Linked DNA regions of Homo sapiens. The protein of the gene in region 2 purifies or fractionates together with the protein of the main gene of each other region. This does not show direct contact. Each region holds a gene or a part of one and is shown on either strand. Other genes may lie near its edges. The genes, in order: HAGH, CTSS, DNAJB12, POGLUT3, PFKL, ALDH7A1 and DNAJC10.

Region 1 (4,384 bases), on a different chromosome or scaffold from region 2:
ATGGAGGTGTTTGGATCATGGGGGGAATCCTTTGTGAACGGCTTGGTGCCCTGCTCCAAGTGCGAGTTTTTGCTGTTAGTTCCCACAGGATCTGGTTGTTTAAAAGAAACTTTTGCCTCCCCCACTCTCTCCTTCCTCTGGCCACATGCTTCACACCCACCAGCTCCTTTCGCCTTCTGCCATGAGCAGAAGCAGCCTGAGGCCTCACCAGGTGCAGACGCCCAGGCCATGCTGCTTATATAGCCTGCATAACCATGAGCCACATAAACCTCCTTTTATAAGTCACCCGGCCTCAAGTATTCCTTTATAGCAACACCACACAGACTAAGACACCCAGGAAGTTAATACGCATCCACTGTATTTATAACTAGTATCAACAAATAATCATGACCAGAAGTGCTTAGGGATCCATTTAGTAACACGTGCAAGACCTTGAACACGCAAATTTCAAAACACTGCTGAGAAAAGCTAAAGACATTCATAGATGGAAAGCTCACAGAAACACTCAATGTTAAGATCGCAATTCTCGCCACATCAGTTATCACAACAGTCCCAATCAGCAGCCAGGCTAGCTTTTCTGATAGAAGTTCACGAGATGATTCTGAAAACGGAAATGTAAAAGGCTTAAAACAACTAAAACCATTTTGAAAAAGAACACTGGAGGATTCACACATACCAGTGCCAAGACTCAGCACAGAGTTACAGTCATCAAGGTGCTGTCCTCGGACACCGTGGCAAGTCATAGAGACCAACGAAACAGAGCAGAGACCAGAAGCAGACTCGGGCATAGAGGGCCCATTCTTTTCAGAAAGGTGCCAAGGCAATCCAGGGAGGAAAGGACAGTCCTTCGACAGACAGCCCTGAACACCTCGGGATCACACTGCGAGAGGGTGAACCTCTACCCTCACCTCGCACCACACACAAACACCATCTTGAAAGGGAACACTGTAAATTGTTTGTAAATATAAAAGCTAAGACTTTAAAACTTCTAGGAAGAAACACAGGAGAAAGTCTTTGTGAGCTAAGGGTATGCAAAGATATCTTAGAAAGGGCACAAGAAACATAAAAGAAAAATTGAGTAGGCCGGGCGCAGTGGCTCACATCTGTAATCCCAGCACTTTTGGAGCCCAAGGTGGGCAGATCACCTGAGGTCAGGAGTTCGAGTCCAGCCTGATCAACATGGAGAAACCCCATCTCTACTAAAAATACAAAATTAACCGGGTGTGGTGGTGCATGCCTGTAATCCCAGCTACTCGGGAGGCTGAGGCAGGAGAATCGCTTAAACCCAGGAGGTGGATGTTGCGGTGAGCTGAGATCGCGCCGCTGCACTCCAGCCTGGGCAACAAGAGTGAAACTCCGTCTCAAAAAAAAAAAAAAGAAACAAACAAAAAATAAGTAAATGGAACTTCACCAAAACTATAAACTATTTTCCAAAAGACAATGTTAAGAAAATGAAAAGGCAAGCCATGAGCTGGGAGAGAAAAACATCTTTTAAATATATATCTCAGCTGGGCGTGGTGGGTCACGCCTGTAATCCCAGCACTTTGGGAGGCCGAGGCGGGTGGATCACGAGGTCAGGAGATCGAGACCTTCCTGGATAACACGGTGAAACCCATCTCTACTAAAAATACAAAAAATTAGCTGGGCGTGGTGACGGGCACCTGTAGTCCCAGCTACTTGGGAGGCTGAGGCAGGAGAATGGCTTGAACCCGGGAGGCAGAGCTTGCAGTGAGATGAGATCACACCACTGCACTCCAGCCTGGGCGACAGAGCAAGACTTTGTCTCAAAAAACAAACAAATAAATATATATATGTATATACACACACACACACACACACACACACATATATATATATATCTCACAAAGACTTGTTTCCAGATGATATAAGGAACTCTTACAAGAGCAGCCCAACAGGCCAAACCCAATATTTAAAATGGACAAAAGATTGAACATAAACTTCATGAGAAGGCATCCAAAGGCCGACACACATGAAAAGATGGTCACATGGGGAAATCCACATTTTAAAGGCAGTGAGACGCCACCACAGGCAAGTTAGAATGGCAAAAATTGGAGAGACCGACAACACCAAGCAGTGCTGGCACAGCATGGAGGCCCCGGAACTCAAGCATTGGTGGGGGACTGTAGAACAGTACAACCATTTTTGGAAAACGGTTCACACCTTTAACCACACAACACAGCAATTCCACTCTTAGGTAGTATCCAAGAGCAATAAAAACATGTTCACAAAAGACTTGTACACAAATGTCCATAGCAGCTTTATTCAAATAGCAAAAAACTGGAAACAGACAAATGCATAAACAAATTGTAGCATTTCCACACAATGGGCTACTCAGAAGCAAAGAGCGTGGCTGACCCTCACCAACATCAGCGGGGCCGAGAATGCCACAGAGATGACGGAGCAATGAGATTCTGTTCATGGGAAACTAGAAAGTGACCTGAGGTCACAGCAGAGCAACAGCTGGCGGGGACGCCACATGGGAGGGACACAGGAGCCTTTGGGGTAGTGGTAAGTTCCACATCTGGACTGTGGAGGGGATTACACAAGTGCAAACATCATCAACATTCCTCAAACTGCAATCTGTCCACTCAAGACAGACACACGGGCCAGGTGACGTGGCTCACGCCTGTAATCTCAGCACTTTGGGAGGCCAAGGCAGGCGGATTACCTGAAGTCAGGAGTTCAAGACGAGCCTGGCCAACATGGCAAAACCCTATCTCTACTAAAAGTAGAAAAATTAGCTGGGCGTGTTGGCTGGCGCCTGTAATCCCAGCTACTCAAGAGGCTGAGGCAGGGAGAATTTTTTTTTTTTTTTTTTTTTTTTTTTGAGACGGAGTCTCGCTCTGTCACCAGGCTGGAGCGCAGTGGAGCGATCTTGGCTCACTGCAACCTCTGCCTCCTGGGTTCAAGCGATTCTCCTGCCTCAGCCTCCTGAGTAGTTGGGATTACAAGCGTGAGCCACCACGCCCGGCCAGCAGGGAGAATTTCTTGAACCCGGGAGGTGCTGGTTGCAGTGAGCCGAGATTACGCCACTGTACTCCAGCCTGGGCGACAGAGGGAGACTCCGTCTCAAAAAAAAATTAAAAAAAAAAAAAAGATGAGTATTTATGATTCATCTGATTTAGAGTTGGAATTTGCATGAGTAAATACTGTAAAATAATGTTAACCTCTACTCTAAGAAATTGAAAAAGATGCTCAAAAAACCGGGTGATTTATTTAAAACAACCCTGTCAGAGGCAGCGACTCTCACTCCACTCAGCAGAGGGAGCCCACGCCTGAGACCACCCAGGCGTGCGTGCTTGTGACACCGTTTCCAGTGAATTCGGGGAAACACACCCCTGGAGAACCCCGTCCTGCTCCTGGCAGACTTTGGCCCAGCTGGCCTGGGCTACGCCATGGAGGCTCACGTGGGGCCACCGTGGAGATAAGAGTCCTTTGGACACAGAGCCACGTTCTGTGGCCTGGAGAGCCAGCAGAGCCACGTGCTGCCAGCCTGACCCTACTGCTCAGAATGTGGGAACAGGCTGGGCGCTTTTTACACACGCAGCGTCTGAGGCCTACTCCAGACCCTCCGAGGCAGAGGGATCTCCATAGAACCCCTGGGTTTGCCGTGCAGGGCGAGCTGGGCCACACTGGCCTGAATCCCAGGCCTGCTCTCTGGGCTCAGAGTGTGAGTGTCTACCCACTCTGGCGACCCCGCTGTGCACAGCGGCCCTGAGCAGCCCACAGGAAGGCACTGCGCAGTGACGGCCCCACTCACCTTGGCCCAGGCCAGCTTCTCCCGGATGGCGGCATTGCCGGGCTCCACGTGGCGTGCAAACTTGAGGTTGTTGATGGTGTACTCGTGGCCACAGTAGACTCTCTGAGGAGAGAGGTGACAGGTGAGCTCGGAAGGCTGTTACCACCTGTGAAAGTCCTCAGGGACGGGACCTGGATGCCCCCGGGGGGTGTCCGGTGAGAGGGTGCCAGGAGGGAGAGCAGCCCCGCCCTGGTTAAGGCCCCCCACACCCCGGCCCGCAGGGAGGCGCTGCCTACTGTGTCCGGGGGGAGCCGGCCCAAGACCTCCAGCAGAGCTTTACACATCTCATCCGCAGTCCCTTCATAGAACTTCCCGCAGCCAGCCACAAACAAGGTGTCACCTGGAAACAAGGACAGCCACGAGGTGGGGGCCACTTGAGGCTGGTGGCTAGGACTCAGGAGGGGGCCAGGAGCAGGGTGACACTCACCGGCAAGGCCCAGGCCCCGAACCCTGGCTGCCCTCCGGCCACGGCTGCCCAGACTCAGCCCCCCTGCATTCCGGCTCCCACATCTCCTTCCAAGTCTCAGCTGACAGTCCAACCACCCAACTGGCCGAGCAGACCCG
Region 2 (4,384 bases):
ATATATTTTTTCATGTTAGATTGTGAGTGCCTTTAGGACAGGATGGTTTCTTACTATTTTTTGTATCTCCAGGGCCTAGATAATGCCAGTCACATTGTAGATGCCTAGTAAGTGCTTGTTGAATGAATGAGTGAAGAGAAGCAGATTTGAATTTCAACACTAAAAGATATAGATGATCTTCAAGAGCAACTTCAGTAGAGAAGGGAATTTAGAACACCTGCCGTAGGGAGTTCCTTAGAGAGTCAATAAGATATGAGGGAAATAGTTTCATTTTAAAAAGCTATCACTGGTCTACACCCAAGCTGATCAGTGCTGTGAATAGGTTATCAGTGAACCAAGATATTGATCCCCTCAGCTACTTTCCCCATGGGCCATACGAATATCATCATCTTCTATGTGTGCCACAGTGGGAAAAGGGTAGGAAAGCACCTTTTGTTTGATTTGTAGACTATGTACTTCAAGTAAAGATTTAAGGGGTGTTATGGGTTGCATTGTGTCCCCACAAAATTCATGTTGGAATCCTAACCTCCAGTACCTCAGAATGTGAACTTATTTAGAGATAGGGTTGATGTAGACATAATTAATTAAATTAAGATGAGGTCATTAGGGTGGGTCCTAATCCAACATGAATGATGCTCATGAAAAGGGAAAATTGGCCAGGCGCAGTGGCTCACACCTGTAATCCCAGTGCTCTGGGAGACCAAAGCAGGAGGATCACTTGATCCCAGGAGTTTGAGACCAGCCTGGGAAACATAGAGAGATCCTGTCTCTACAAATAGAAATTAAAATTGGTCTGGTGTGGTGGTGCATGCCAGTAGTGCCAGCTACTTTGGTGGCTGATGTGGGAGGATTGCTTGAGCCCAGGAGTTTGAGGTTGCGGTGAACATTGATCACCCCACTGCACTCCAGCCTGGGTGACAGAGTGAGACCCTGTCTCAAAAAGGGGAAGAAAGTAAAATTATGAATAGAGACAGAAATGCATACAGGGAGAATGTCATGTGAAAATGAAGGCAGAGGTCAGGGTGATTGTCCTAAAGGCTGAGGAAAGTCAAAGATCACCAGCAAACTTTCAGAAGCTAGGGGAGAGGCATCAAACTTTTTTTTTTAATTAAAAGAACATATTTAATTGACAGATTGTATAAACTCAAGGTATACAGTGTGATGACTTGATGTATGTGCACATTGTGCAATGATTGACATAATCAAATGAAATAACACATCCATCTCCACCCGTGCTGTACCTTTGATTCCCAGAATCTGTTCATCTTATACCTGAAAGTTTACACTCTTTGATCAGCATCTCCTCATTACCCAGCCTCCAGTCCCTGGCAGCTATCATTCTACTGTCTGTTTCTGTAAGTTTGACTTTTTTAGATCCCACATATAAGTAAGATCATACAGTTTTTTTTTCCTGTGTCCACGAATATTTTCTTCCTCACAGCGTGAGAAGGAAGTAACACCTTGATCTTAGACTTCCAGCCTCCAGAACTGGGAGACATAAATTTCTGTCATTTAAGCTGCTCAGTTCGTGGCACTTTGTCATGGTAGCCATAGCAAACTAACACAAAGAGAAACTCCAGGTATGCCCCAAAGTCTCAACTCTTCATATTTCCTCCATTTTTTCCCTCTAGAAGTTATGTTCCTTTTGTTTATGAGTGATATAGATGTCAGTTCAATACATATATTGAGGGGCCTTTAGGTGCCACCCACTTAGTCTGTGCTGCGGATATGAAGACCAGACATAATCTCTCCCCAAAGGCACGTACAGAACACTGGAGTGACAGACAGGTAAATATACAATTTAAATATAATGCCTAAAATCCTGTGATCCAGTATGCATAGGACATTTTGGCAGCATAGAAAAAAGACATGTTCCTCAGCCCAAGGATTCAGGAAAGACTTTTCTGGAATAGATTGTGCCTGAGCTACTTCTGAAGAAAAGGAGAAGTAAACCAAAAGAGAAGACAGGATGTTCTAGGCAGAGGGAACACAAACCAAGATATGAAGGAAGGTATTACAGATAAAGTGGAATGTATGGGAACTACAACTGTGGATAGTGCAGTATAACCAGAGTGAAAATAGGAGGCAACAAATGCCAGGAGGTGAGGCTGGCAAGGCAGGGAGCACAGCCTATAGGATTTGTCTTCTGTCAGGGAACATTAATTTTACACCGAATGAAACTCAGTAGAAGAGTTATAAGCCCAGACTCGTTCATATTTTAGACAAATAAGTTTGGCAGCAGTATGAAAGATGGATTTGAGGGTAAAGGGGAAGAAAATAGAGAGTAAAGGAGACCAGTTAGAAGGGTACAGCAATAGTCCACACTAGAGATGCCTGAACTAGAGCCGTAATAGAAGAAACAGAGAAGGAACAGAATCAAGGACATAGATAAGGTAAAATTGGTTTGACTAATTGGTTGCTTGGTTGGACTTGGGGAGGTCTCAGATGAATCCATCATATCTTATTGGGTGATTGTGTTGTGTGGCCCTTTACTGATATGGGAAATTCTGAAGGAGGAACAGTATGGGGGAGAGAGTACTGAATTATTTGGATGTATTGAGTTTGGAAAGACTAAGATATATGTAAGTGAGTGTGTCCAGATAAGTCTGAAGTTCTGGGAAGATGTCAGAACTAGAGCTAGAGATTCAAAAGCTATTGGCATATAAAGGTTATAGCTAGAGTCCTAAGAGTGGAATTATAGCACCCAAGAAAAAATAAAATAAGAAGAGGAATGGGCAGATGATAGAGCCCTGGGGAAAACTAACATTTTTGGGCTAAATAGAGGAGAGGAATAGGTTCATGAGAGAGGCTGAGAAGGAATAATCACAGAAGTAGTACAGAAGATAAACCAGGAAAACAAAGTGATGAAGGCAGAATGGTAAGTGAAAAGATGGGGGCACTGAGTAATTTAGAATGTCACTTTGTAAGAAGCTATAAAGTTCATCATTGTCAATATCGTGATCATAATGATCATCATCAAAATCATGAGAGTATTTGCTGAAACTCCCTCAAATTCCTGATTCCAATTAAATATAAAGTGTAAATATATTACCTGTTTTTCACAAGCCAGTATTCTTTCCCATTAAGATCACCATAGCCAACCACAAGTACACCATGATTCACATTCTGAGTACAGGATGGTTCATAGTAGACACCTGAGAATCAAATATGGGTGGGAAAAAAGAGTGAATACTATAGGATAATAAAGGGCATTTTAAAACGGTATTACTTTTTATTAGCCTGCTTTGGATACATAGCAAGGTTAATTTAAAAAGTTAAGGACATGTCCAGGCATGGTGGCTCATGCCTGTAATCCCAGAAGTTTGGGAGGCCAAGGCGGGCGGGTCACAAGGTCAAGAGATCGAGACCATCCTGGCCAACATGGTGACACCCCATCTCTACTAAAAATACAAAAATTAGCTGGGCATGGTGGCACGCACCTGTAGTCCCAGCTACTCAGGAGGCTGAGGCAGGAGAATTGCTTGAACCCAGGAGGCAGAGGTTGCAGTGAGCTGAGATCGTGCCACCTCACTCCAGCCTGGCAACAGAGCAAGACTCCATCTTAAAAAAAAAAAAAAAAGTCAAGGACATATACTGTCATGCATAAACTAGGGCTCATAATTATTTGCCACCAATGCTGTATTTGTCAGTGTTCTTGCCAAGCTTAGCATCACTCCAGTCATAGTTCCCCCAGAAACCTTCTTTGATAAGCACACCACCTTTTTCTAAGTTTTTTTCTTTTTTGTTTTTTTCTAAGTATTTTTAAACTTGCATACAATCAGTTATTTTAATTCTCTGTGTATACAGGCATATCTCATTTTATTGTGCTTTGCTTTATTGTGCTTTGCAGATATTAGCTTTTTTTTTTTTTTAAGGAACAGTGTTTTGCTCTGTTGTCTAGGCTGTAATACAGGTGGTATGATCATAGCTAATTGTAACCTCAATCTCCTAGGCTCCAGTCATCCTCCTGATTTGGCCTCCCAAAGCGCTGGAATTATAGGCATGAGCCACTGCACCCAGCTAGATATTGCATTTTTTACAAATTGAAGGTTTGTGGCAACTCTACATTCAGCAAGTCTATTGGTACCATTTTCCCAAAAGCATGTGCTCACATTGTGTCCTTGTACCACATTTTGGTAATTCTCACAATATTTCAAACTTTCTCATCATTATTATATCTGTTATGGTCATCTGTGATCAATGATCTTTGATGTTACTTCATAATTTTGAGGGTGAGCTACAAACCACACCTATATAAGATAGCAGACTTAACCCACAAATGTTGTGTGTGTTCTGACTGATCCACGGACTGGCCACACCCCCATCTCTCTCCTCAGGCCTCCCTGTTCCCTGAGACACAATGATATTGAAATTATGCCACATG
Region 3 (4,384 bases), on a different chromosome or scaffold from region 2:
AGCCCACCAGGCATGGTGGCTCACACCTGTAATCCCAGCACTCTGGGAGGCTGAGGCGGGCAGATCGCCTGAGGTCAGGAGTTTGAGACCAGCCTGGCCAGCATGGTGAAACCCCGTCTCTACTAAAAATACAAAAATTAGCCGGCGTGGTGGCAGGCGCCTGTAATCCCAGCTACTCGGGAGGCTGAGGCACAGAATCGCTTGAACCCGGGAGGCAGAGGTTGCAGTGAACTGAGATTGTGCCACTGCACTCCAGCCTGGGCAACAGAGCAAGACTCCATCTCAAAAAAACAAAAGCAAGCAAAAACAAGCCTGTGGTTCCTGCAGATTAAATGAGGAAGGGCCCAAGTCTCTGGCAGCAGGTCCCTGTGTCCATTTATTCCAGGCACGAAACCTCAGTCAGGCCTGGGCCCCAGCGCCCTGGGTAGTAAAATCCTAAAGCCTCTGACAAGCTGACCAGCTGGGAAAACAGGCATCTGGATCACTGCAGGGACCCAGCATCCCTCTGTGCTAAGGAAGGACAGCAGCACATCCCAGCACATTCCTTCAAACACGCCAGGTGCCTGCTGGCCTGAAGACGCCATGCTGGGTGCCACACCCACCAGTGCGACCCACTGAGGTCTGACCCAACAGGCTGAGAGCCAGTCTCACTGGGAACAGAGTATGGGGCTCCAGTGGAGCACTGTGCCCTGGGCCACTGCTGCCGCACTCCGAGCTTGTGTGATCTTGCTGAGTCTTCAACTGGGAAATCCAAACACAGGAGCTCACAGCTGGGGTTGCTCTGAGTAAGGGAGGCGGGCTCCTGTAGCAAACCCTGAGAGGGTGCTTGGGGAGGAACAATAGCAACAATCATTTTTCTTACCCAGTGATGTGTGTCAGGTGGGTACTTTCACAGTGATCTGCATTAGCTCATTTAATTGTCACAGCAGCCTTAGAAGGAAGGTCTCATTACCTACCCCACCCCACTGTAGGAAGAGGGTACTGTGGCAGACTGCTGCCATGACCACACAGCTGGTTAGGAGGCAGAGGGGCCTTCGAACCCCAGGATGTCCAGCTCCAGGGTCCATGCTCTTAACTACGCTGCTATCCTGGGCTGCACGTGTCTGATGGGGTGGGGATCGGGGACAGGGATGCAAGCAAAAGCATAGAAGAGACATCAAATTCAGAAAGGCCCAGATTCAAATCTCAGCTCTGCCATTCCTAGCAGTGTGACCCTGGCTGATCTATGAAATCTCTCTGAACCCTGGTTTCGTCACGGTGGCGGAGGATGAAATGGGATAATGTGTGTAAGCACCTGTGCCGAGTCTGACAGAGAGTGAAGGTTCAAGGCTGATGAAGTGTCTGGCCACAGAAGTGGGCTGGCCAGGGAAGTGAGGGAACCTGTGGTGGGGGCTGGGGAGGAGGAGGGCTGGGTAGCGGGGGAGCTCCAAGGCTCAGGAAGGCAAAGACTCAGCGCTCAGCAGACTCTGGAACCAGTAGTAACCATGAGATTTCAGGCCATCCCAGATACCAGGTCCATGCCAGCTACCAAGGGGATGGCAAGAGAAACCGAAAGATGAAGAGATATTGGTCAAGGCGGGGCAGGAGGAGGAGGCAGTATGCTGTTTCCTAGAGCTTTTCAAGAAGCTCTTTATTATTTCAGTTCCTCTGGAAGTTCTGGTGGCCCAGGCTGAGCCTGGCAGATCCTAAGGGCAAAATAACCAGTTATTCAACTACCAGAGATGAGCAGGAGCACTAGCCAGGAGATGGGACAGGCTCTCTCTTGTACCTCTCAGAGAAGATTCTGGAAGCTTTTCAGGGCAGTTACAGGGAATCAGCCACTCTAATTTCCCTACAGTACAGAAAGAGAGCCCAAAGGAGAATGGGGGTGCCCTGGGTCACATAGAAGCTTTCTGCTTGAGTTGGAAATTAAAGATTTCCAGTTGCTGGCAAGTAGGGTCTCTCTTCTGGCCTGGGGGATGTGACAGCTTCATGCTTACATCCCTCATGGCACAGAGGCTGACAGGCAATGTCACAAAAAGAGACAGAACAGCTTAATGTTACCTTCTCAGTAAAGCTGGCAGACTTAGAAAAGGAAGGGAATTCGATAGAAGAGAACAGAGCTGCGGTGGAGAGGCACCTGAGGTAGAGCTGAGAGGATTTCTATGGCCAAAGCCACTGAACCCAGACTAGAGTTAGATTTGGCCGGGCAGTGGCTCACACCTGTCATCTCAGCACTTTAGGAGGCCAAGGCAGGAGAATGGATTGAGCTCAGGAGTTCGAGACCAGCCTTGGCAACACAGGAAGACCCTGTCTCTACGAAAATAAAAAAATTAGCCAGGTGTGGTGGCACATGCCTGTGGTCCCGGCTGTTTGGTAGGCTAAGGTGGGAGGATCACTTGGGCCTGGGTGGTTGAGGCTGCAGTGAGCTGTGATTGTGCCACTGCACTCCAGCCTGGGCAACAGAGTGAGACCCTGTCTCAAAAAAAAAAAAAAAAAAAAAAAAAAAAAGACTGCCCGATGGGTTCAAACCTAGCTCTGCCATTTGCTAGAAGGGTCATCTTGGACAAGGTAACTTAGCTCATCTGTGCAAAACTCTATCTCCATCATACAGGCTAAAAGAGGAAATGAGTGAATGCCAGCAAAAAACTCAGCCCAATGCCCAGCAAATATACAGTGTTGTCTCTGACCGTGACTTTGTTAGTAAGTGAGTAGCTGAGTTTCTGGGCTCTGTGTACCTACGGTGCTCACAGTGAGTCAGAAAAGGGCCTGGGATTGGAGATGGACAGCTCTGGGTCTTTGCTGGCTAGCCATGTGGCCTTGCCAGGTTAGCTGGTTCCTGAGTGGAGAGACGATCTCTGCTCTCATAGGAGTGCTCTGAGGGGTAAATAAGATTCTGTGAAATACAGTGAATGGAAGGGGGCTAAGTGCACAGTGGGGCTCATGAAGGTTGACTGACTTGAAGGGTACAACCCCACCCCGGACCTCGCCAGCACCAGAACATCTCTCACTCCTGGACTCTGAATGCAGAATCCCTCAGCAATCCGTCTCCTTTTCCTGTGGGCTGGCCTTCCCAGCTTGGCCTTCATGACTTAGCCCAGAGTCAACCATTTCACAGAACATTGGATAGCCTGAGCTGCAAGGAACCTCAGGATCATCCCAGCCAATCCTCTCTTTGTATGCTGGGGAAACTGAGGCCTACAAATGCTCTCGTGAGCTCCCTGGGAAATCTGGCACCTTCCACATTTGTTACAAAGCCTGAGTCAAAGCCAATGGCTTACCAGGCTGCCAGCTACTGGACAGAAACTCCCAGAAAGGGACTGACTGGCTCCACCATCTCTAGTCTGTGACCTCCCAGCTTAGGGCCCAGCTACTGCTTTGCAGTTTAACTCAGTGCCTCCTTGTCCCACCTCCTGCAGCAGGAGTTTCAAGCCCCCTCACATCCCTTTTTGCTGCAAAGGCCAACAGTGTGAGGTCCCTCATCCTTTCAAGGTTGCTCTGAGCCTCCCCTCTCTCGTGACTCTCCCCTCTCTGCCCTTCCACCTCTCCAAGACCATCCTCTGCCCATGCTCTCGATCCTTCCCTTTTCAACTCTTAACTTGTCCTTTTCCCATGCAGTGCCTGCGGCATCACACAGGGCTGCTCACCACCTGCTGCCATTACCTCTCCATGGCTACCTGGCCGCTGCCCTCTCCGGGGACTGCCTTTTCCTGTTGCTCCATCTCAATCTGTTGCTTCCTCTGCCTTTGCCTGTGGGCTCAGGGCAGGTGTTGCCTGCCATTGTGCCTGCAGCAACTTTCTCTCCATGGTCTATACTTTCCCACAGTGACCTCAGCCATGCACAACTCCAGTGAGCTCCAGGGAACAGACGATACCACACTTTCACCTGTAACCTGGAGCGCTCTCCTGAGTTCCAGGCTGACAGCTCCTTTGGACTATCCCACTGGCACCTCCCACTCTGCTCATCTCTTCCCATCTCAGTTCTTCAGCCTGGTTTCTTCCTGGTCACAGGGGCTTCAATTCTGATTCCCCAGCATCCCATCTGATTCTCCTCTGCACCTCTCTCTCACACAGGCCTGGTGCCTCTTTTCCAGGGACCTTAGCCTTATCCATGACTGCCTTGTCCCAGGCCCTCAGAATATCCAACCAGCTCAAGGCAATTCTCTCCTATTGGCTTCCTGCCCTGAAGCTCTCTTCCCTCTCATTAACCTTTCATGCTGTTCTCTTTTAACAACAGTGCCCGTACTTTATTCCTGCTATCAAAAACCTCAATGGTTTCCTCACTAACTACAGAATAAGGTGAAAATATCTTGGCCTGGTAGAAAAGGATTTCTATGATCTGGCCCCATTTTATTTCCCAAACTTAATCCTCTCTGTATACGAATTACCACCTCCACTGCCTCTA
Region 4 (4,384 bases), on a different chromosome or scaffold from region 2:
CTGGGTTCAAGTGATTCTCCTGCCTCAGCCTCCTGAATAGCTAGGATTACAGGCACTCACCACCACGCCCAACTAATTTTTTGTATTTTTAGTAGAGACGGAGTTTTGCCATATTGGCCAGGTTGGTCTCGAACTCCTGACCTCAAGTGATCCACCTGCTTCGGTCTCCCAAAGTGCTGGGATTACAGGCGTGAGTCACCGCACCTGGCCTTAAACAATAGTTTTTAAGGCACTAGGTATTAGGCAATGAAGGACAGTGAGTCTGAGAGATGGGGAACAAATAAGGTAAGCCCTACAATTCCTACAGCCTACTGCTTAAGGGAGCTTTGAGGTTGTAGTACAGGGAGGGGGACTGTAGGCAAAGCCAGGCAGCCTCACTGAGTTGAGGAGACAGAGCTGGCAGTCCAGGGAGACCAAGGCAGCTCTAGACTTTGTAGGACAGAGTATCTAAAAAGGAAGCACTGCACAGAGAGAACGTTAGAGATCTATAGAAGGTCCTCTTCACATATTGAGCAGAGCATATGATCAGTGCATTTTGGATGGGTTCTTCCCCTGTATTGATTCTAAAAATAATACAGTTTAATTATTTAGGTATAACATTTAAATATTTAGAATGATAATGACAAAGGATGAAAACAGATTTCAGGCTGAGAAATGGACATCTAAGATATTTGCCACCTGAGTGTTCATATGTTCTTGGGGAAGACAGGGGAAGAACCCATCCAAAATGACCAGAGAGAACAGTACTTATCGGTGGGTACCAGCCAGATTGGAAAGCCTCCTAATTCACAGGGCTTGGGTAAAGTATGCAGAAGGGTATTACCTCAGTAGCGGGGAATAATTAGCCCTAGACTACACATGGCTCTAGTCCCACCTAACAAACTGTAAAAGCAAAACTTGGAAGGATTAAACTATTTCCCAGTGATTTAACTGCACCCCAGAAAAGAGCTCAAGAAGATGAAAAAGCATCAAGAGGTGAAAACTACACTGTATAGGATTGACAACAGATCGTACATTGCAGAAGAAAAGAGAACTTAGAGACAGTAATAGAAACTATACGAAATGAAACAAAGAGAAAAAAGAATTTAAAAAATGAAAAGGGTATCGATGAACCACAGGATAGTTTCAAGCCCAATATATGGGTAATTAGTATCCTTGAAGGTAAGGTGGAATGGAACAGAAAACATATTTGAAGCAATAATGGCCATAATTTTTCTAAATTTGATGAAATTTAAATCACTTGGATGGTTTAAATTCCAAGAAGTTCCACAAATCCAAAACACAGGAAACATTAAGGAAACTGCACCAAGGCACATAATAATCAAACTTCTCAAAAGAACTGATAAAGAGAAAACCTTAAAAGCAACACAGATGAACAAAGATAAGGAAAATGCTAGATTTATTGTTAGAAGCAATGCAAGTGAGAAGACAGTGGAACCACATCTTTAAAGTATCAAAAGAAAAAAAACCCATCAACCTATAACTATAACTAGAGACAATGTCTTTTAAAAACAAAGGCAAACTAGGCCGGGCATGGTGGCTCATGCCTGTAATCCCAGCACTTTGGGGAGCCGAGGCAGGGGGATCACTTGAGTGCAGGAGTTTGAGATTAGCCTAGGTAACATAAAAAGACCCTGTAGAAACAAAAAAATGTTTTGTAGAAACAAAAAAATATTTTTTAATTAGCTGGGCATGGTGGTATGTGCCTGCAGTCCTAGCTACTTGAGAGGCTGAGGCGGGAGGTTTGCTTTAAACTAGCAGTTTTTGTTTCTGTTTTATTTCGTTTTGAGACAGGGGGTCTCACTCTGTCCCCCAGGCCAGAGTGCAGTGGCACGATCACAGCTTACCGCAGCCTCGATCTCCCTGAGCTCAGGTGATCCTCTTACCTCAGCCCCCTGAGTAGCTGGGACTACAGGTATGTGCCGCCACACCCAGCTAATTTTTTGTAGAGATGGGTTTTTGCCATGTTGCTCAGCGTGGTCTTGAATTCCTGGGCTCAAGTGATCCTCTGGCCTTGGCCTCCCAAAGTGCTGGGATTATAGGTGTGAGCCACTGCACATGGCCTAGCCCAGCAGTTTAAGGTTGCAGTGAGCTTTTTTTTGAGATGGAATCTCGCTCTGTCACCCAGGCTGGAGTGCAGTGATGTGATCTTGGCTCACTGCAACCTCCACCTCCCGGGTTCAAGCGATTCTCCAGCCTCAGCCTCCCGAGTAGCTGGGACTTCAGGCATGCGCCGCCACCATGCCTGGCTAATTTTTGTATTTTTAGTAGAGACGGGGTTTCACCATGTTGCCCAGGCTGGTCTTGAATGCCTAAGCTCAAGCCATCCACTCGCCTCAGCCTCCCAAATTGTTGGGATTACAGATGTGAGCCACCACGCCCAGCCTGCAGTGAGCTTTGACTGTGCCACTGTACTCCAGCCTGGGCCATAGAGCAAGACCCTGTCTCAAAGTAAACAAAAAACAAATCAAACAAACAAAAGGCAAAATAAAGTTTTTTCAGACATTCAAAAGCTGGAAGAATTCATCACCAGCATTCTCACAGTAAAATAAATATTAATAAAAATCCTTTAAGCAGAAGGCAAATGTTACTAGATGGAAATATGGATCTACACAAAGGAATGAAGAGTTTCGCAAATAGTAACTACATGGATGTAAATACACAAGATTTTTTTCTTATCATTTAAATCTCTTTACTTAATTTTCTTTCCCTTAAAATTTAAATTGAGCTCCAGGAGGTATGTATACAATGTTTACTTTACTGCACATGACTTTGAGGTCATCAGGTTTAGGCCATTCTGAAAGGCATGGGACCTACACACAAGGCTGACTCTGGAGTATATAATAATCACTTACCTTTCAAAATATAGGGAGACTGAGCCACATGTTCATCACCATAAAGGACCTCTATCTTCAGGCCTTCATCGACAGTTTCATACATCCTATATCTCATCAAAAATGTTCCATCATTCCTGTCCAAAGGTTTAGGGACATGTATCCGGACCAACTCTTTAGGTGAAAGAGATTTGACTACGACTTTGAATGGTGTTTCACCTAAAAGGAAAAGAAATATAAACAACTCTACCATGTCATGATAATGATTTACAATTATTGGATAGGTGTTATTGGATAACTTAAATATGTTGCTTTTTCCTGCAGCATTGGTGGTTAAAAAAAAATCATTTCCTTTGGAAGATCTTTGAGGCCAGGAACTGTCATGTCTGGTTCATGCATTCTTTTTTTTTTTTTTTTCTTTTTTGAGACAGGGTCTTGCTCTGTCATCCAGCTAGGAGTGCAGAGGCAGAATCCTAGCTCATTACAGCTCCAACCTCCTGGGCTCATGAACCTCCTGCCTCAACCTGCATCAGCCCCATGAGTAGCTGGGACTATAGGAGTGTGCCACCATGCCCAGCTAATTTTTGAAATTTTTTGTAGAGATGGTGGGGGGCGGGATGGGTTGGAGGGGGTCTTGCTGTGTTGCCCAGGCTGATCTCAAACTCCTGACTTCAAGCGATCCCCACTGCCTCAGCCTCCCAAAGTGTTGGGATTACAGGCTTGAGCCACAGAGCTTGGTCTGGTTCATGTATTCAAACCACGGATCAGACTCAACATTTGAATCATTAGTCATTCAATAAAGATTTACTGCATGAACAAAAGCAAATCATTTTTTAAAAGCAAATAAAAAATAAACTTTTTGCTTATTTGGTCTTTCCTCCTTTGGGTAGGATTAAAGCCCAAATAGTTAAAAATCCATGGACTCTAAGCATGACAGATCTCTCTAGTAATCGAACTTCCTCCTTATAAAACACACACAAGCTTTCTTTGTATACCATTTCAGTATCTAATAACCTTCATTTCTGTGAAAATTTCCCCGTTTATTAAGCCCAAATTTCAAGTGGTACTTCTAAGGCCATTTCCTTACGTAGAGAGAGATTACAGCTAGTTACCAGACTCTTGTACAAGCTCACACACACACACACACACACAAACACACACATACACATCTTTGTAAATACTAGAGATTACTTCTGAGTCTGTTTCCTCAGCTTGAAATGAAACAGTTACACTGTAATAATCCATTCCACCTTCAAAGTTTTGTGGGGTTTCTGTTCTACGTAAATAATAACTATTCAACAAACTTTCCCTTTCCTATTAGCTGACATTTAGGCTTTGAAATGATACTGTTGTGATTAGTGTTACTGTGGCCAGGAATAAACTTTGAAACTTCTTCCTTCAGAGAGTGCAGAGGATATACCATTTAGATCACCATATCAAAGGAAAATGCTAAAAAAGTAATGAATCCTTGGAAATCCACAGTCCTAGCAAAAGGAAAATTGTGACCAAAGTTGTTTTTCACTTCGCATATTATAAAATTTAGAATATTT
Region 5 (4,384 bases), on a different chromosome or scaffold from region 2:
GCCCCACTGCCTTCCTAGAAAGGCTGACCCTGGCCGAGGGGAAGCCTGTGGCATAGTGTGCCCTTCTCTTTGCCCTCTATGTCAGCCGGGCAGCAGGAGAGTGGGGACTGGGAGGCACTTTCTGCCCCAATGCTGAAGTCTGCGTTTGTTGGATGTATGGAACAGCCAGCCTCACCATCCTGCCAGTGTTGCCCAGTCCTGGGACTTCTCGGGCCTTGATTTCCCCTTCTGTGAAAGGGGGTTGGGGACAAGACAGGCCACCTTGCAAGTTCCTTCCAGCCAGCCCACAAGTCCTGTCCTGTGTGGCTCTGGGTCACGCCTTTCCTGTTGGCCAGGGGTTGGTGCTGTTGAGCAGGGGAGGGCGTTGTTCAAGGATATCTATTTGCACAATAACCTGTGCAAAGGTAGCTAGAAGACTTGAAACAGGCCGGGCGCGGTGGCTCACGCCTGTAATTCCAGCACTTTGGGAGGCTGAGGCTGGTGGATCACCTGAGGTTAGGAGTTCAAGACCATCCTGGCTAACATGGTGAAACCTCGTCTCTACTAAAAATACAAAAAATTAGCTGGGCATGGTGGTGCGCATCTGTAATCCCAGCTACTCAGGAGGCTGAGGCAGGAGAATCGCTTGAACCAGGAGGTGCAGGTTGCAGTGAGCCGAGATCGAGCCACGGCACTCTAGCCTGGGCGACAGAGCGAGACTCTGTTGCAAAAAACAAACAAGAAAAAACCCCAAAAATCAGCCAGGCGTGGTGGTACATGCCTGTAGTCCCAGCTACTCGGGAGGCAGAGGCAGGAGAATCGCTTGAACCGGGGAGGCAGAGGTTGCAGTGAGCCAAGATCCCGCCACTGCACTCCAGCCTGGGTGACAGAACGAGACTCTGTCTCAAAAAAAAAAAACAGACTTGACCAAAAAAAAAAAAAAAAAAAAAATGGCCCGGCCTGCCTATGCCTACCTTCATCTCGCCCTGGCCTGGGCACTTTTAATTCTCTGGGCCCTTTGTCTAGTGCCCCCTCCCTGCCCCTGCAGGACACCGTGCCCTGCCTTTCCCTGGCTGGTGTGTTTGGACGTTGGTTTCCTGTTATCGCAGGTGAGGACTTAGCTTCCTGGCCCGCCACGCCTCCCTGACATGGCCTCCTGTTTGGAGCCTTCAGGCTCATGCTTACATCCTTAGCTGATCATTAAACTTTGTGACCATTTCATGCTCACTGCTTTCTTGCCTGGGAGCTAATGGTGAGGAAAGGTCACTGGGAACCAGCGCACCAACCTCAGACATTGATTTTGTTCCAGCCTTTTTTCCTGGGCAGGGGTGGCTATCACCTGCTGGTAGGCAGCGGCAGGCCCACTGTCCTGCCTGCCCTCTGACTGCGGTGTCGGCGACTGCTGCCCGAGGTTTATTTTGAGAAAGAAAAGCCGATTAAAGGGCCATTAAAAAGGTCTTTTGAAGATTACAGCTTCCAATGAGGTTAACAGAGAAAATTTCCTCCTTCAGGCCGCAGCCAGTCCCGTTCTAAAATCCAGAACGTGTCCCTTTCCAGTCCCGTTCTAAAATCCAGTCCCAACAACAAAGTGGCCATGTGACATGGCCACTTTGTTCTCCTCCCAAGGGCTCAGCACAAAGCTGGGTTTTGGCAGCTTCATTGTCTCCGGGCGTCAAAGCAGGTTTTATTTTGCAGAGCACCCTGAAGACATTTGGAAGTGAGGGGTACCCTTGCTGACCCCTGATCCTGGGGCCCCTTTGCCGTTCCCAGGTCCCCTGACAAGCCCACCAGGCCCCCTGCTGAGATGGCTGTGACCCTGGGCTGACCCGCCCAGTGGCACATTGACTCCGCCTGGAGCTGGGGAGACCAGAGAGGCCCTGTGGTTGGACGGTGGCCTGGGTGCGCTGCTCCTGCCCTCTCCTTGCCCTGCCTCAGCTGCTGCCTGCCAGAGGTGGGCTTGGACCTGTGGTGGGACCAGGTCTGCAGGGAGGGCGAGGGAGGGACGGAGGCTTAGCTTCGGCCAGCTGTGGCTGAGTGGATCTCCCTCACTGCCCCCAACTCCAGTGAGGGTGGGGGACAGGGCGCTGCACTCACAGCACCACCTTGGACGCCCAGCCTCAGGCAGCAGGACTTGGCTCTGCTGACTGTTTTTGGTTGTCGGGTGCTTGGGGTGGCTCAGCTGTCTGGGGGGGGCTCGGCTGTCTGTCTCGGGGGGCTTGGCTGTCTGCGGGGGGCTCGGCTGTCTGGGGGGCTCGGCTGTCTTTCTGGGGGAGCTTGTCTGTCTGTCTGGGGGGCTTGGCTTTCTGGGTGTGTGTGGGATGCTTGCTGGGTTCCCGCCCCAGTTTCAGCTGTAGCAGCCGTGCTCCCATCTATGTGGGGATGTGAGGGAGGCACTGTTCCTTTAGAGACGGCGTTGCTTGCTCAAGTGGAGAAGCTGCCAGTGTGGGCAGCTCCAGCTCCCTGCACGCTCTGTGCTCTGCCCATTCTAACGTCTGTGCCCCTTCTTCTGGATGGCTGCCGGGCTTGGCTCTGGCCCCCCTGTTGGATCCCCTGGCTGCTGGGTGGGGAGAGGGCCACCTACTGAACCTGAGGGTGGGTCTGGGTGAGTCCTGGCTCTGCTGCCACCTGCTGGGCTCTGGAAGGTCCCTCACCCTCCCTCTGGGATCTCATTGGATTCCTGTAGTGTGGGGATGGTGGCAGATACTCTGGCTGCTACGTGAGAACAGTGTGCCGATCCCTGGGGTTTCTCAAGGCGTGGCACCTCACCTCACACCTGCTCCCTGCTGCTGAGCCCCACGCCAAGCTGGAGAGCGGATGAGAAGCATGTGTAACCAGGGTAGAGGTCGAGAGTCCTCTCGTGGGGGTCTCCATGTTCAAGGGAGCTGCCGAGGCTTGAGCAGGAGCCCCCAGCAGGTCAGCACCTCCAGCCTCTGCAAGTACAGGGGGGTGGGAGGGCAGGGGCTTTTGAGGGGCACGAGGCTTGGGGACAGAGGACCCGCATGGCTTAGGGATGGATGGCATGGTATGGGTGCTGGGAGGGAGGCAGGAAGAGCAGGGCTGGTCCCAGGGGCAAGCACAAACTCAGGCCTGTTACACGGCCCCAGACCTCACTCAGAAGGGGACCCTGGCCGCTGGCGTGGGTTTCCTCCTCTCTGAAGATTAGGTGGTCTTGGCTGCCCCTTTTGTATGAAGTCATGGATATCTTTTGAGATGGGGGCTCTCGGGAAGAAGGTGTGGGGTACATTAGCACCAGCGTTTCCTGAGTGCCGCCTCCCCCGTTAATGTCCCTCTCCAGGAAACTGGCTTTGCCAAGGCCCCCGCTGGGACAGACTGTTTCTTTCACTGCAGTCCTGGGAGCCGAGGGCAAGGGGACAGGAAAGAGGAAGTGACCTCAGAGCCTGGTGGCACCAGCATCATGTCCAGGCTGGGGGGTGAGGGTCCCTGAGGCCCTGGGGCAGGGCAGTGCTGTTCCCTGGGTGGCTGAGGCCGGAGGGGCTCTGTTCTCAGTCCCCCATCTCATTGCGGAGGAAGGAGCCCAAGCCCCTTCCAGCAGGTGCTTTCCTCAGTGCCCAGAGGTGCTCCCCGGCTTCTCCATCCCCACGCCGCAGCCTGAATGTCTGGGGTGGGGCCGGTGTGGGAGGTGCCGGCCTCTTTTCCACCTGCCCCACTTTTTATCCTGCTCTGTGGTCAAGGCCTGGCCCCGTGGCCTGTGAGTGTGGGGGCTCCGTGGCAGAGGTTGGGGCGGCGGGGTGTGGAGTTCGGGACACCCACACATGCCTGATTGCCATGCTCTGCATGGGATGTTCCCAGTTTATCTCTGGGCACCATACTCCAGGTGCTCGGAAGCTGAAGCCTAGAGCCTGCTGGGTTCACCCGAGCCTCCACCCGGGGGCCCAGGGCTGGTCCTCAAGTTTCCTGGCCTGGTGCCTCCTGAGATGGGGAGGGTGACCAGGCCTTCCCTACCCCCTGCCCTCTGAGATGGGGAGGGCGTCCGGGCCTTCCCTGACCCTTGCCCTCTTGAGATGAGGAGGGTGACCAGGGCCTTCCCCCACCACCCGCCCTCTGAGATGGACAGGGTGTCCAGGCCTCCCCTACCCCCTGTCCTCTGAGATGGGGAGGGTGTCCAGGGCCTTGCTTCTCAGCGTGGGACTGACAGGTTTGCCCTGACCTCCACAGGCATGAACGCTGCTGTCCGGGCTGTGACGCGCATGGGCATTTATGTGGGTGCCAAAGTCTTCCTCATCTACGAGGTAAGGCCAAGGTGGGCTGTGTGTGTGCAGGGAGTGGGGACCTCCTGAGGCGCATGCCGAGGTGTGTTCTGTGTGGGTCACACTGGGAGACGGGGTGGTCCTGGCCTGGAGGAGCTGATGGGTATGTGGTCTTGGGGAGTGTGAGGGGGAGCTTG
Region 6 (4,384 bases), on a different chromosome or scaffold from region 2:
TGGGCACGGTGGCTCACGCCTGTAATCCCAGCACTTTGGGAGGCCAAGGACAGTGGATCACGAAGTCAGAAGTTCCAGACCAGCCTGGCCAACATGGTGAAACCCCTTCTCTACTAAAAATACAAAAATTAGCTGGGCATGGTAATGGGTGCCTGTAATCCCAGCTACTCGGGAGGCTGAGACAGGAGAATCGCTTGAACCTGGGAGGCGAGGTTGCAGTGAGCTGAGATCACGCCACTGCACTCCAGCCTGGGCAACAGAGCAAGACGCAGGAGCCTGAGGTGGGAGGATTGCTTTAGTCCAGGAGGAAGAGGGTGCAGTGAGCTGAGATCGTGCACCACTGCACTCCAGCCTAGGTGGCAGAGCAAGACCCTGTCACAAAAACAAACAGAGCCAAGTGTGGTGGTTCATGCCTGTAATCCCAACACCTTAGGAGGCCAGGGTGGGTGGATCACTTGAGGCCAGGAGTTAGAGACCAGCCTGGCTAACATGGGAAACCCCATCTCTACCAAAAAATATAAAAATTAGCTGGGTGTGGTGACATGCACCTGTAATCCCAGCTACTCGGGAGGCTGAAGCAGGAGAATCACTTGAACCTGGGAGGCGGAGGTTGCCGTGAGCCAAGATTGCGCCACTGCACTCCATCCTGGGCACAGAGTAAGACTCTGTCTCAAAAACAGACAAACAAACAAAAACATGTGTTTCCTTGTTTTATAATAATATATATAAATAAAGACAGGAGAAGAAGGATGTCAAATGGGGTGGCTTTTCCAATATGCCCAGAGCCCTGCTTGTGTCTCAGGGAAAAGAAGGTTAAAAAGCTGTCACAATTGATCTCAGAGCATCCCTTACCTTGCCCCCATAGACCACTGTGCCACCTTCTTTCTTTGCTTCTTCCACTGCTCCAAGAAACATGCTCACTGCCTGCTTGGTGTGGAGTGGCCCATAGAGAACATTAGCTGGAGAGAGAAAAGGAAGGCTGGCTCATCATTTTGCCCTTTATGGCATCGTTTTATTATTAGAACAGCTTTCTCAATGAACAGACCAATCCCTTCCTATATGCTCTCAATTGAGAACATAAGTCAGCATCCTTTTTCCATAAAGAACCAGATGGTAAATATTTTATGCTTTGGAGGACATACGTGATCTCCATCCCAATACTCAACTCCGTAATTGTAGTGCAAAAGCAGCCATAAATGACATGCAAATGAGTGGGTATGTGCCGAGAAACTTTTTTTTACAGAAACAGGCAGAGCCAAGTCTGTTTGCCAATCTCTAGTTTAAAGGAATGGCTATCAATTACTCAAAGCACTGCACTCAAAATATAGGGTCAGTTTACTCATTACAGTGTGACCATTCTCTAAGGAAACATCACAGTCTCAGTAGTTGGTGTATAATTCAAGGGGGAAGAGAATGATGCTGTCCTATGTTACGGCTGCTGGGGACTAGAGCACTGACAGTGACCCAGCAACAAAGAAGAAGGAAGATGTAGGTAGGCCTCTATGAGGAGGAGGCATGTTAGCAGAGCCATCCCCACTCTGGGTGAAGAATGTTTCCAGCAGACAGCACAGTAGGATAGAGCCTGGCATGCCTGGAACACTGAAAGGATGTTGGAGAAGGTGGAGCTCTGGGAGCAAGAGGGAAAATAGACACAGAAAGGCTGGTGAGAAGGCAAGCGGGGCAGGAGGCAGAGAGCAGACCAGGAAGGATCGGGAGCCTGCAAAAAAGAAGAAATCAAGAGGACTCTCGGTTTTAATCTAAAAGCAGGCCTGGCGCAATGGCTCACACCTGTAATCTTAGCACTTTGGGAGGCCCAGGCAGGCAGACTGCTTGAGGTCAGGTGTTCGAGACCAGCCTGGCCAACGTGGCAAAACCCTGTCTCTACTAAAAATATGAAAATCAGTCAAGCGTGGTGGAATGCACCTGTAATCCCAGCTATTCGAGAGGCTGAGGCAGGAGAACTGCTTGAACCCAGGAGGCGGAGGCTGCAGTGAGCTGAGATCAAGCCACTGCACTCCAGCCTGAGCAACAGAGTGAAACTGTGTCTCAAAAAAAAAAAAAAAAAAAAAGAAAGGAAAAAAAATCTAAAAGCAATGAGAAGTTACTGAGGGGTATTTTAAGCAGGAGAGTGAATTATCTGATTGCATTTTAAAAATCATTCTGTAGCAATGGATGCAGAAAGGTCAGTTAGGGGATTCTTGCAGCCTTGCACAAGAGGGATGGTGTCGGCTTGGACAAGGGTAATAGTAATGAGAGAGAAGCACACTAAATCTCATTCCATCTAAACAACCTCTCCCAGTCTCACCCACTAGCACACATCAAGCAGCCAGGGTCGAAACCTAGGAGCAGACACGATACACCAAAGCCTAATAACCTGCTTCATGTGCCTTCACGCCTCTCAGGAAAGGGAAAGAAACTCCAAAACTCAGATCAGAAACACTTGTTAACAACAGCTCTCAAAAAGGGATCGCTTTGAAAGCAGAAGGAGATACTCACGGTCCCATGGGTTCCCAACTCGGATCTGTGCATAGGCCTTTTTAAGTCTGTTTACAACCTCATCATGGATGCTTTCATGTATAAACTAAACGAAAAAAGATATTCAAGGGCATAGTATGATAAATGCACACATTTTTAAACAATGAATAATTTCCTTGATAGTTACTGAAATACTGTAATCTCTAAAAATATAAGAAAATCAAAGCATGTTTATTTTTTTAATTATATAATTTATCATTTTAATATTAACTATATGAAGTCAAAATTTTCCTTTTAGGTAGATAATAGAATAAAATCATAAGCCATGTCTTTTTTTTTTTTTTTTTTTTTGAGACAGAGTCTCACTCTGTCACCCAGGCTGGAGTGCAGTGGCATGATCTCAGCTCACTGCAACCTCCACTTCCCGGGTTCAAGCGATTCTTATACCTCAGCCTCCCGAGCAGCTGGAATTACAGGCACCCACCACCACACCTGGCTAATTTTTTGTATTTTTAGTAGAGACAGGCTTTTGCCATGTTGCCTAGGCTGGTCTTGAACTCCTGACCTCAGGTGATCCACCCACCTCAGTCTCCCAAAGTGCTGGGATTACAGGTGTGAGCCACCACACCCGGTCCATAAGCCACATCTTCATCAAGTTTCCAAGGATGTATTTGTCTAAGCTTCACAAATACATTAAAGAAGGCCTCAAGTACATGTGTCCCATACTGTAACCCTAAGTCCCAGTGAACACAGAGCATAGTCATAACTGACCTCTGCTGGGTAACTACAAACACTTAACCCCAGGCCACACAGGTCTCCAGAGGAGGCCTTAATTAGGTGAGGACAACCCTTGCATTCTCTGGGTAGTTGTCAGGTCCATGCTATGCTCCAAGTGGCAGAGCTGAACTTGCCAAACCATCTATGCTCTGGGTTAGTCTCCACATGTGATGAATGAATTGACATTATGAGAACTAGTCATGAAGCAGTCCATAGTAATGGAATTTTTAAAAATATTACTGCTAACTCTAAGGAAATCTATTTGGACAATGACTAATATTACCTATTAATATTTAAAACTAATATAAAAGACGTCTATGAATATTTGCTCCAAAACACATGAAAAAAATAAAAATTGGCTGAATAGAGAAATATTTGGCTTTTATGTCATTTCATATTTTACCATGTAATGAAGGGTATAATCATTTGGAGTGCATGGTTTTTTCTTAGCTTTAACGTAATCTTTAACGCAATTTAATGTTTATGGTGAACAAATTTAATAAACTTTAAAGTTACAAATGTAGTATCAGATTATTTGAGAATGTCAGCTGTGTAAAAATAAAGATTTATTTTCATTTATGCAAAACACCTGAAAAAACAAATATGAAAAGTGTGAGAGGCCGGGTGCGGTGGCTCACACCTGTAATTTCAGCACTTTGGGAGGCCAAGGCAGGCAGATCACCTGAGGTCAGGAGTTTGAGACCAGCCTGGCCAACATGGCAAAATCCCATCTCTAATAAAAATACAAAAATTAGCCAGGCACGGTGATGGGTGCCTGTAGTGCCAGCTACTCAGGAGGCTGAGGTGGGAGAATCACTTGAACCTGGAGGTGGAGGTTACGGTGAGCTGAGATCACACCATTGCACTCCAGCCTGGCCAACAGAGAGAGACTCCATCTCAAAAAAAAAAAAGAAAGAAAGAAAAAAGAAAAGTGTAAGGTAAAGATAATTTTCATATATCTTTTAGCTTATTCTAATTAATTTAGATTATGTCAGTCTTATAAAGAATTTGTTCACACTCAATATGAATGAGAGCAAAAACCCAAAGCCAATTCCTTAATAATTCAACTGAAGGCTTTTTTCATTACAAAAGGAAAACTCAACAATAATAAAAAAGGCTCAAGTCCAACAGA
Region 7 (3,738 bases), on a different chromosome or scaffold from region 2:
AGCCTAGCACATTGTAAGTACTCAAATAAATGTTTGCTGAGTGACATGGGGCTCATGTTGAGCTCATGTAACTTCCTCATAAATGATTTCTATTCAGGAAGGCCAAAGGAAAGATGACAAGGAGGATTACGATGTTCCATTAGCGGAAGAATTGAGTCTAACTTCACACACTTCTCTTGCAGATAAACTGGTTTGAGGTTATAGGCCTCTAATTTATCAAGAAAGAAACTGGCATGCATTTAGATGGACTGCTTAAGCCAATAGGTCTGTAATCTGTGGGGAGCAAAGAGGTGTTCTTTCAAACAATGAGAGGTTAAACAATACATTTATCAGATGGGACTTTTGTGAACATTGAGGGACAAAACAGGAAGCTGAAAAGGAAACCAATCAATTCTACCAGGGTTTATAACAGCTGTAATGAAAAGCCTTGGGGAAGGAAAGAAATTGGAATATATCCTCTTCATTATTTTTTGTACCTCAAAATGTTATCCTGTTCCACAACCCTCAAAACCCCTCACAAAGATAACCAACTACTGTAATCCTCATTTAATAAACATAGACTTCAGATAGTGCATTTAATTCTAATGAAACTTGTGCAAGATTATAGCATGGAGATAAAAAAATAATTGTTCACTGATGGTATGCAAGCATTTGTGAGGATTACTTATAAATTGACTTGAGCATCTCTTTTTTCTTTAATTTACTCTTTGAACATGTATTGAGTGTCAAGATGATGGCATGAAAAGTGAACAAGATTGTGTCCTGGCTTTGAAAGTTCATGCACTCTAGGACAGGGAAACATACTAATCAACAGGACTGAACTTATAAGGTGTTTCAGGATCCAATTCTCTGATTCTCTAGATTATTGCATTGTTTAGAGTTAAATTTAAAATGTGTATCTTCAATATGTTGTAAAATGCAAAACATAACTTTTAAACGCTTTAAACATCCATTGTTGAAATGTAAGATGCAATTTAGATTTTTTAGTATCTATTTCCATATTGCAATTAATTAAACGATAACTGCAAATCTTATCATGTATTAGAAACATGTGACTGAAATGACTAAACTCCTGTTTTTGAGGTGTCTTATCCACATTAGAGTGTTATAAAATGTTGTATACAGTTTGTATGCCCAAATACTGGATTTATTAAACAGAAAATAAATGAGAGGTAGAATAAAGTAGTCATTGTTGGAGCCAGGTTTCACTTGTCAAGAAAGAGTTCACAGAGGCCAGTTTGAAGAATATCTTGAAACTCATTAAACTGAAAAAGTTTTGACCAATATTTTGCTAACAACTATATAATCATTATGGACAGAGCTACTTTCCCCAGCATAGTTTCAGAAACACACGTTGACTTCTAGCTGGGCTGAAGTTTTAAAGTTTAAGATGTTTATATACTTTTAAAATTTCATTTTAGAGTAACCCATTTTATACTAATTTGGCCAGAATAGTATTCAAAAATATTGTGTATAAATGGCCACCTGAATACATATCTCTCTTAATTTTTAACTTTTGAGGCTGGGTGAGTTTCTATGTTAAGGTTTATTCACACCAAGGCATACTAGTTTTTGTTGCCAACTAGTTATGATTCAGGAGGACTGAAAACTAAGCTCTAGAGTTACTTTAATTGGAGAATTACTGCTTGGATTTAAATTTTATGGCTTGATCTCATAATGAATGAATTGCCCTACTTCTGAGGGAACACATTTCATGCAGGGTCGATCTCTGTGGGGGTATTTATCCACTAAATTTATGTAGTGAATATTTTATCCCAAATGAAGAAATTAAAAAAATATTTACTTGAAAATAAGTCATAACATTTAAATATCAAAATAGTGAACAAAGAGAGAAGGAGCATAGACAGTTGAACAGGAGGGTAAAAGAGAATATGGTTACTTGGAAGAAATAAGAGAATAAAGCAAAGGAAAAGTCAGAAAATAAGTCAGCTTAGTAGGCAATGTAACTGATAAGTAAGGTTATTTGATTTTAGTGTTAGAAGGCATAATTATTACTATTGTAATTTTTTTTTTTTTTTTTGAGATAGAGTTTCACTCTTGTTGCCCAGGCTGGAGTACAGTGACGTGACCTCAGCTCACTGTAACCTCTGCCTCCCGGGTTCAAGCGATTTTCCTGTCTCAGACTCCCAAGTAGCTGGGATTACAGGCGTGCACCACCACGCCTGGCCATTTTTTTTTGTATTTTTAGTAGAGACGGCGTTTCACCATGTTGGCCAGGCTGGTCTTGAACTCTTAACCTCAAGGGATCCACCCGCCTCGGCCTCCCAAAGCGCTGGGATTTCAGGTGTGAGCCACTGTGCCTGGCCCTTACTATTGAATTTTAGAAAAGGGAAAAGGTGCTTCATTAGATATTCGCTTTTACATCTGACATTTTATATAGCAGGTTTAAACACATTTAAGTATTGTTCAGTTCTGTAAGACCAAGGTATTAGATTTGCAGTTTTCTCAAGTTTCACATGCAGAAAGTCATGTAAACTAAACGAATAAGCTAGAAGCATTTAGCACCCAAAGTACTTCAGCAAATCTTGAAGTTTATAAGTATAAAATAAATTTCTTCTGCTCTTGAAGACCTAACAATCTAGTTTGGAAGATAACATATGGAATAATCAGAGAATAATATAGGACTAAATAAAGCTTTTTCTTATAAACAAATACTTAGTTTTGTGGTAGACAATGAGGAACTTTTAGAAATTCAGAAATCAATGTGAAGTAAAGAAGTCAGCAAAGGCTTTACAGTGGAAGTTGGATTTGGGATTTAAGTTAGATTTTGGGTTTACAGGATGAGGTGAAGGATGAAAAGGGCATCCAAATGGGAAAGTAATACAAAGCATGGTATGAGAATGTAAAATAACCAACTTCCCACAAAGTACTTTGATATGGAAAAAGTAATAATTTAAAGACTCTAAAAGTACAAATCAAAACTCCAATGGGATATGAACGCACACTCATTGGGATACCTACTATTTAAAAAAAATGAGTGTTGGTGAGGATGTGGAAAAATCAGAACTCTTGTGCACTATTGGTGGGAATGTAAAATGGTGCAGCTGCTATGAAAAACAGTATGGAGGTCCCCCCATATTAAAAATAGAATTACTATGATATAGACTTACACTTCTAGGTATATAGCTGAAAGAACTGAAAGCAGGGTTTCTGATATTTGTACACCCATGTTTATAGCAGCATTATTTGCAATGGCCAAAGGGTGAAGGCAGCCTATCAACGGACGAATAACAAAATGTAGAATGTATATATAATTGAATATTATTCAGCCTTAAAAAGGAAGAAAATTGGCTGGGTGCGGTGGCTCACGCCTGTAATCCCAGCACTTTGGGAGACCAAGGCAGGCGGATCACCTGAGGTCAAGAGTTCGAGACCAGCCTGGCCAACACACTAAAACCTTGTCTCCGTTAAACATACAAAAATTAGCCAGCGTGGTGGCACATGCCTGCAGTCCCAGCTACTTGGGAGGGTGAGGCAGGAGAATCGCTTGAACCTGGGAGGTGGAGGTTGCAGTGAGCTGAGATCACACCACTGCACTCCAGCCAGGGGGACAGAGTAAGACTCCGTCTCAAAACAAGAAAATTATGACACATGCTACAACATGGGTGAGTCTCGAGGACTTACGCTAAGTAAAATAAGGAATCACAAAAAGATAAATGGTGTATGATTTCACTTACATTAAATATCTATGGTAGTCATATTGATAGAAAGTAGGGT

Evidence for each region.
Region 1: the proteins of CTSS (region 2) and HAGH purify together in Homo sapiens (affinity purification with mass spectrometry, with the first as the bait; one large-scale study listed by BioGRID). This does not show direct contact.
Region 3: the proteins of CTSS (region 2) and DNAJB12 purify together in Homo sapiens (affinity purification with mass spectrometry, with the first as the bait; one large-scale study listed by BioGRID). This does not show direct contact.
Region 4: the proteins of CTSS (region 2) and POGLUT3 purify together in Homo sapiens (affinity purification with mass spectrometry, with the first as the bait; one large-scale study listed by BioGRID). This does not show direct contact.
Region 5: the proteins of CTSS (region 2) and PFKL purify together in Homo sapiens (affinity purification with mass spectrometry, with the first as the bait; one large-scale study listed by BioGRID). This does not show direct contact.
Region 6: the proteins of CTSS (region 2) and ALDH7A1 fractionate together in Homo sapiens (co-fractionation; one large-scale study listed by BioGRID). This does not show direct contact.
Region 7: the proteins of CTSS (region 2) and DNAJC10 purify together in Homo sapiens (affinity purification with mass spectrometry, with the first as the bait; one large-scale study listed by BioGRID). This does not show direct contact.

Annotation. Positions count from the first base shown.
Region 1 is NC_000016.10:1,813,112-1,817,495, forward strand, and holds part of HAGH (hydroxyacylglutathione hydrolase, mitochondrial isoform 1 precursor), read right to left. Parts: intron 4,161-4,384; coding exon 4,057-4,160; intron 3,884-4,056; coding exon 3,782-3,883; intron 1-3,781. UniProt on the Homo sapiens protein: Thiolesterase that catalyzes the hydrolysis of S-D-lactoyl-glutathione to form glutathione and D-lactic acid.
Region 2 is NC_000001.11:150,744,725-150,749,108, forward strand, and holds part of CTSS (cathepsin S isoform 1 preproprotein), read right to left. Parts: intron 3,156-4,384; coding exon 3,053-3,155; intron 1-3,052. UniProt on the Homo sapiens protein: Thiol protease. Key protease responsible for the removal of the invariant chain from MHC class II molecules and MHC class II antigen presentation. The bond-specificity of this proteinase is in part similar to the specificities of cathepsin L.
Region 3 is NC_000010.11:72,347,938-72,352,321, forward strand, and holds part of DNAJB12 (dnaJ homolog subfamily B member 12), read right to left. Parts: intron 1-4,384. UniProt on the Homo sapiens protein: Acts as a co-chaperone with HSPA8/Hsc70; required to promote protein folding and trafficking, prevent aggregation of client proteins, and promote unfolded proteins to endoplasmic reticulum-associated degradation (ERAD) pathway.
Region 4 is NC_000011.10:108,488,115-108,492,498, forward strand, and holds part of POGLUT3 (protein O-glucosyltransferase 3 isoform 1 precursor), read right to left. Parts: exon of another isoform or gene 3,088-4,384; coding exon of another isoform or gene 3,054-3,087; coding exon 2,856-3,053; intron 1-2,855. UniProt on the Homo sapiens protein: Protein glucosyltransferase that catalyzes the transfer of glucose from UDP-glucose to a serine residue within the consensus sequence peptide C-X-N-T-X-G-S-F-X-C. Can also catalyze the transfer of xylose from UDP-xylose but less efficiently.
Region 5 is NC_000021.9:44,302,526-44,306,909, forward strand, and holds part of PFKL (ATP-dependent 6-phosphofructokinase, liver type), read left to right. Parts: intron 1-1,032; exon of another isoform or gene 1,033-1,088; intron 1,089-1,749; exon of another isoform or gene 1,750-1,930; intron 1,931-2,647; exon of another isoform or gene 2,648-2,793; coding exon of another isoform or gene 2,794-2,892; intron 2,893-3,274; coding exon of another isoform or gene 3,275-3,410; intron 3,411-4,155; coding exon 4,156-4,229; intron 4,230-4,384. UniProt on the Homo sapiens protein: Catalyzes the phosphorylation of D-fructose 6-phosphate to fructose 1,6-bisphosphate by ATP, the first committing step of glycolysis.
Region 6 is NC_000005.10:126,553,435-126,557,818, forward strand, and holds part of ALDH7A1 (alpha-aminoadipic semialdehyde dehydrogenase isoform 1 precursor), read right to left. Parts: intron 2,582-4,384; coding exon 2,497-2,581; intron 960-2,496; coding exon 853-959; intron 1-852.
Region 7 is NC_000002.12:182,789,093-182,792,830, reverse strand, and holds part of DNAJC10 (dnaJ homolog subfamily C member 10 isoform 1 precursor), read right to left. Parts: 3' UTR 1-3,738. UniProt on the Homo sapiens protein: Endoplasmic reticulum disulfide reductase involved both in the correct folding of proteins and degradation of misfolded proteins.